2 linked regions of the Homo sapiens genome follow. The protein of the gene in region 1 interacts with the protein of each later gene in a biochemical or structural test. Each region holds a gene or a part of one and is shown in the gene's direction. Other genes may lie near its edges.

Region 1 (3,119 bases):
ATTAGGCATATTTACAAGCTAGTTTCTTTCTTTCTTTTTTCTCTTTCTTTCTTTCTTTCTTTCTTTCTTTCTTTCTTTCTTTCTTTCTTTCTTTCTTTCTCCTTCCTTCCTTTCTTCCTTTCTTTTTTGCTGGCAATTACAGACAAATCACTCAGCAGCTACTTCAATAACCATATTTTCGATTTCAGACCGTGATAATACCTACAACCGAGTGTCAGAGGATCTGAGAAGCAGAATTGAAGTCCTGAAGCGCAAAGTCATAGAAAAAGTACAGCATATCCAGCTTCTGCAGAAAAATGTTAGAGCTCAGTTGGTTGATATGAAACGACTGGAGGTAAGTATGTGGCTGTGGTCCCAGATGTCCTTGTTTCTGAGTAGAGGGAAAAGGAAGGCGATAGTTATGCACTGAGTGTCTACTATATGCAGAGAAAAGTGTTATATCCATCATCTACCTAAAAGTAGGTATTATTTTCCTCACTCCACAGTTGAAGAAAAAAAATTCAGAGATATTAAGTAAATTTTCCAACGGTACATAGATAGTAAATTTCAAAAGCAAATGTTCAGTCCCTGTCTAATTCCAAAGCCCATTACATCACCACACCTCTGAGCCCTCAGCCTGAGTTTCACCAAGGATCATTTAATTAGCGTTTCCTTTGAGAGGGAATAGCACCTTACTCTTGATCCATTCTGAGGCTAAGATGAATTAAACAGCATCCATTGCTTATCCTGGCTAGCCCTGCAATACCCAACATCTCTTCCACTGAGGGTGCTCGATAGGCAGAAAACAGAGAATATTAAGTGGTAGGTCTCCGAGTCAAAAAAAATGAAACCAGTTTCCAGAAGGAAAATTAACTACCAGGAACTCAATAGACGTAGTTTATGTATTTGTATCTACATTTTCTCTTTATTTTTCTCCCCTCTCTCTAGGTGGACATTGATATTAAGATCCGATCTTGTCGAGGGTCATGCAGTAGGGCTTTAGCTCGTGAAGTAGATCTGAAGGACTATGAAGATCAGCAGAAGCAACTTGAACAGGTCATTGCCAAAGACTTACTTCCCTCTAGAGATAGGCAACACTTACCACTGATAAAAATGAAACCAGTTCCAGACTTGGTTCCCGGAAATTTTAAGAGCCAGCTTCAGAAGGTACCCCCAGAGTGGAAGGCATTAACAGACATGCCGCAGATGAGAATGGAGTTAGAGAGACCTGGTGGAAATGAGATTACTCGAGGAGGCTCCACCTCTTATGGAACCGGATCAGAGACGGAAAGCCCCAGGAACCCTAGCAGTGCTGGAAGCTGGAACTCTGGGAGCTCTGGACCTGGAAGTACTGGAAACCGAAACCCTGGGAGCTCTGGGACTGGAGGGACTGCAACCTGGAAACCTGGGAGCTCTGGACCTGGAAGTACTGGAAGCTGGAACTCTGGGAGCTCTGGAACTGGAAGTACTGGAAACCAAAACCCTGGGAGCCCTAGACCTGGTAGTACCGGAACCTGGAATCCTGGCAGCTCTGAACGCGGAAGTGCTGGGCACTGGACCTCTGAGAGCTCTGTATCTGGTAGTACTGGACAATGGCACTCTGAATCTGGAAGTTTTAGGCCAGATAGCCCAGGCTCTGGGAACGCGAGGCCTAACAACCCAGACTGGGGCACATTTGAAGAGGTGTCAGGAAATGTAAGTCCAGGGACAAGGAGAGAGTACCACACAGAAAAACTGGTCACTTCTAAAGGAGATAAAGAGCTCAGGACTGGTAAAGAGAAGGTCACCTCTGGTAGCACAACCACCACGCGTCGTTCATGCTCTAAAACCGTTACTAAGACTGTTATTGGTCCTGATGGTCACAAAGAAGTTACCAAAGAAGTGGTGACCTCCGAAGATGGTTCTGACTGTCCCGAGGCAATGGATTTAGGCACATTGTCTGGCATAGGTACTCTGGATGGGTTCCGCCATAGGCACCCTGATGAAGCTGCCTTCTTCGACACTGCCTCAACTGGAAAAACATTCCCAGGTTTCTTCTCACCTATGTTAGGAGAGTTTGTCAGTGAGACTGAGTCTAGGGGCTCAGAATCTGGCATCTTCACAAATACAAAGGAATCCAGTTCTCATCACCCTGGGATAGCTGAATTCCCTTCCCGTGGTAAATCTTCAAGTTACAGCAAACAATTTACTAGTAGCACGAGTTACAACAGAGGAGACTCCACATTTGAAAGCAAGAGCTATAAAATGGCAGATGAGGCCGGAAGTGAAGCCGATCATGAAGGAACACATAGCACCAAGAGAGGCCATGCTAAATCTCGCCCTGTCAGAGGTATCCACACTTCTCCTTTGGGGAAGCCTTCCCTGTCCCCCTAGACTAAGTTAAATATTTCTGCACAGTGTTCCCATGGCCCCTTGCATTTCCTTCTTAACTCTCTGTTACACGTCATTGAAACTACACTTTTTTGGTCTGTTTTTGTGCTAGACTGTAAGTTCCTTGGGGGCAGGGCCTTTGTCTGTCTCATCTCTGTATTCCCAAATGCCTAACAGTACAGAGCCATGACTCAATAAATACATGTTAAATGGATGAATGAATTCCTCTGAAACTCTATTTGAGCTTATTTAGTCAAATTCTTTCACTATTCAAAGTGTGTGCTATTAGAATTGTCACCCAACTGATTAATCACATTTTTAGTATGTGTCTCAGTTGACATTTAGGTCAGGCTAAATACAAGTTGTGTTAGTATTAAGTGATGCTTAGCTACCTGTACTGGTTACTTGCTATTAGTTTGTGCAAGTAAAATTCCAAATACATTTGAGGAAAATCCCCTTTGCAATTTGTAGGTATAAATAACCGCTTATTTGCATAAGTTCTATCCCACTGTAAGTGCATCCTTTCCCTATGGAGGGAAGGAAAGGAGGAAGAAAGAAAGGAAGGGAAAGAAACAGTATTTGCCTTATTTAATCTGAGCCGTGCCTATCTTTGTAAAGTTAAATGAGAATAACTTCTTCCAACCAGCTTAATTTTTTTTTTAGACTGTGATGATGTCCTCCAAACACATCCTTCAGGTACCCAAAGTGGCATTTTCAATATCAAGCTACCGGGATCCAGTAAGATTTTTTCTGTTTATTGCGATCAAGAG
Region 2 (3,751 bases), on another chromosome or scaffold:
AAAAAAAAAGACTGAGTTGATTATTAGTCCAAGCAGGTGAATTAAGTCACCTCTATGTCCCATGTTGGCTGACACTTGGAATCCCCAGGTCCTCAGCAGGCCAGGGACGGTGGTCACCGGAGTGCCCCTGAGCTCTGTGCTGCAAGGCGGCCATCGACCACCTTTGGTGCCGTTGCTGGAATCCCTTCTCACGTCTCCCTGGAGCCAGCACTTTATTAAGCGCTCCAGCAGCTTCCCTGGCCACTCCTGGTTCTGGATATTAGTTGCGTTTTCCAGGGCAGCGCAAGTTTCTCCCCTGAAATCCAAGACTTCCTCGGCCACCAGAGGCCCCAACAGTTCCATGTCCCTGCCTGGACAGACGAGTCCTTGAATCTCCCAGAGCAGCCAGGCCCAGCATTGTCAGGCGCCCCTGAACGCAGCCCCTGGAACCCCACTGCTGCCACTCCAGCCGCGCTGCCCTGTCAGTCCGATTTCTTCCAGAAGCCTCTGTGAGCATTTGACTTTCTCTCAAGCAGCAGGGGCCCAGGAGCCCGGATTCCTCTCCTAGAGAACAAAATCTGTTCAGATTCGTTTGCTCCACTTTGCTTTGCATGTGTCTCCCAACCACAGATGCCAGGTGACCTCAGAGGCCCTGCCGGAGCCAAGGGCACATCAGAGGGCTGAGCCCACTGTAGACACCCCCTCGGCCTCCCGACCAAGGATGCCAGGTCATCTCGGAGGCCCTGCCGGAGCCGAGGGCACATCAGAGGGCTGAGCCCACTGTAGACACCCCCTCGGCCTCCCGACCAAGGATGCCAGGTCATCTCGGAGGCCCTGCCAGAGCCGAGGGCACATCAGAGGGCTGAGCCCACTGTAGACACCCCCTCGGCCTTCCGACCAAGGATGCCAGGTCATCTCGGAGGCCCTGCTGGAGCCCAGAGCACATTGGAGGGCTGAGCCCACTGCAGACACCCCCTCGGCCTCCCAACCACGGATGCCAGGTGGTCTCGGAAGCCCTGCTGGAGCCCAGAGCACATTGGAGGGCTGAGCCCACTGCAGACACCCCCTCGGCCTCCCGTGGCCTGAGTGACCCTCCCGTGGGGTCAATCAGAAAAGGGAAAATCCCATCAGCCAGGAACAAGGTGAGGGGGCGAGAGGTGGCCAAGGCCAGTGCTCGGGGAAGGTGGGCTCTGGGAGGGAGAAGCAGGAGGCTGAGCCCCAGGCAGCCCCCTGCCCCACGTAGGGATTGTGGAGCTCAGGTTCAGAGAGGGCAATTAGGACCCCAGCACCGCACAGCTGTGTAGGGGCCGGGCCGCAGTCAGAGCCCACATCTTCTAAGCCCCAAACGCTCACAGAACACACTCCCCTACTTCTCACGTAAGTTACCGTCTGCACGTTGCAAACGTCCCAGAGGTGCACAGGTCATCCGTGCACAGCTTTGCATTTCTGCAAGGTGAGCGCCCCCAGGACCAGGCCCAGGTCCTCAGCAGCTCCGGAAGCCACTCAGCCCGACACAGCCTGGACAGAAGGGCTTTGCCATCATCCGCTTCGCCTTTTTTCCTGCCACGGTGGCCTGGGCTGGGCAGGGCGGTCCTCAGGACTCTCTCCAGTGCTGCGTCCAGCTTAAATGCAGGTTGCAGGAGACACGTTTCCAGCGATGGACCCAGTTCGGGCACCCAGAGCCGCTGCCCTAAGTAACAGTGTCCGCCGGGCCCGCAGCTGTCCAGGGCACAGCTGTCCAAGGTGGCAGATGGCAGACGTCCGCCTTGCAAAACGCTCCTCCTGCTGGGTCAGCCCCGACACAGTCAGCGAAAGGAATGGTGGGAGACGCTTGAGCCGCAGGGTGAAGGAGCCATCTTCGTCCTTGCCAGGAGCCACACTCTTGCCTGTCTGCGCTCTCCGGGAGGCCAACCGTGATGCCATTTCCTGGTGACTGGAGGAGGCAGGATCTCTCCTGGGTTTGTCCGCTACCCTGGCTTTCTCCTTGCTGTTTGTGTCTTTTATTATTACTAAAATGGAAAAGGACTCACGCTCCTTCCTCCCAGAAAGCCCCCACTCCAAGTGCAGGGCAGCCTTCGTTACCTGGACAGCTGCCTCCCGTGGCTTCTTTGTGTAATTCCCAGCCCGTGATGCCGGCGTTGCTGGGACCCCCGCTTCCCGGGCGAGGGGCTGGGCACAGAGCAGGGAGGCACTTGCCTGAGGTCACACAGCTCCAAGCCCTCCTAACCCCGCCCGGGAGGCCCCTTTAATACCCGATTTGGATCTGCAAAGAGAAATGGCTGTGGGCCCGAGAAATGCCTTTCTCTTTTAACACGATACCATCTGAAACCGGCTTAGGCGAGGACGGGAGGCTGTTAACAGCAGACGAATTTTAAGCCTCCAGCCAATGAGCGCTCAGATGAAGATTTTCCTCCTGAAATGGAGCTCCTGCCCCGGTGGGGGCTGCCTCGTCCGACTGTGGGCTGCCGACTAATCTGTATCAGCACGAGACAGGATTGCAGCTGGTCTTTCCTTGATCGTTCGTTCTTACAATAATGACCCAGCGTTGGCAGTGGGGTGAGGGGGCGCGGGAAGGAGGGGGCAGGCAGGTGATCGGGGCGTTGGAACCAGACCAGCCGGGACCTGCCGGGTGCGTGGGGTGTGGTGGGGGCCAGGTCGGCCTGGCACCCACCCCGTTTCCTCTCCGAACCTCAGCTTGTTCAGCTAAGAAAGGGCAGCCGGGACCGGCCACCCTCCTGTTCACTCCGCTGGGAAGCGCCCTGCCGAACCTGCCTTCTGATCCCACGGGGAGCCTGCCCTGCAGCCAGGAGAGACCCCTGGAATCACTCAGCCTGGCTGCATAGGAATGCTGGGACTGGGGGAGCTGTGAGTGAGGTTCGGGGCTCCGGCCCCAACAAAACCACGTTCTCACCAGTTCTACAGCCCCAGGCTTTCCAGAGTTTCTCCACAAACAAATAAAGCAAGAAAAACTAGATTTAATCAGCAAATAAATACAGGAATAGCGCCGTCGGCCGGGCCTCCAGCATCAGAGCAGTGAACCCGCACTGCTAGCGGGCCTGGACAGCGCTTGCATTTTTCTGATTATTCTTTCTTTATTAAGGTATAATTCATGTACCACAAAATTTACCATTTAAAAGCGTACAGTTCCGTGGTTTTTAGTATATCCACAATGGTGTGCAACCATCACCACTGTCTAAATCCAGAATGTCCTGCTGACCCCAAAAAGGAGCCCCGTACCATGAGCAGGCGGTCACCGTTCCTCACCCCGCAGCCCTCGACGAGCAGCGTCCCACCCCCAGTCTATCTGGATTTGCCTGTTCTGGGCGTTTCATATTAAGAGGGTCATACGACGTGTGGCCTCCTCTGTCTGGCCTCCTTCGCGGAGCACAGGGTTCTCGGGTTCAGTGAGGGCTTCATTCCTCTTCTTGTTTCATTTCGTTTCGTGTCATCGCACGGATGGACCATGTTCACCTGGCGTGTCCACTCCTCTCTTGATGGACATTTGGGTGGATTCTCTCTTTTTCGGCTGTGGTGAGCGGTGCTGCTGTGAGCATTCGTGTCTGAGTTTTTGTATAGAAATGTTTTCTCTTCTCTTAGGGGTTTACATGGGAGGGGAGTTCCTGGGTCACGTGGAAACACTGTGTTTAATCAGTTGGGGGCTGCAGACCGTTTCCGCCGTGGCTGTGCCGTGTGCACCCCCCGCCAGCAGCGCACAGAGGTGGCGGTTCCCCCGTCCCAGCCGGCAGCTGCTCTTTTGATGGAAGCCATCCCA

What was found. The genes of interacting proteins can lie anywhere in the genome.
Region 2: of the proteins of FGA (region 1) and FAM20C, one has a biochemical effect on the other in vitro, tested with the Homo sapiens proteins (2 studies listed by IntAct).

Annotation. Positions count from the first base shown.
Region 1 is NC_000004.12:154,584,727-154,587,845, reverse strand, and holds the end of FGA (fibrinogen alpha chain isoform alpha precursor), read left to right. Parts: intron 1-188; coding exon 189-334; intron 335-927; coding exon 928-2,352; 3' UTR 2,353-2,571; downstream 2,572-3,119. UniProt on the Homo sapiens protein: Cleaved by the protease thrombin to yield monomers which, together with fibrinogen beta (FGB) and fibrinogen gamma (FGG), polymerize to form an insoluble fibrin matrix. Fibrin has a major function in hemostasis as one of the primary components of blood clots.
Region 2 is NC_000007.14:251,523-255,273, forward strand, and holds part of FAM20C (extracellular serine/threonine protein kinase FAM20C precursor), read left to right. Parts: intron 1-609; exon of another isoform or gene 610-1,121; intron 1,122-3,751. UniProt on the Homo sapiens protein: Golgi serine/threonine protein kinase that phosphorylates secretory pathway proteins within Ser-x-Glu/pSer motifs and plays a key role in biomineralization of bones and teeth.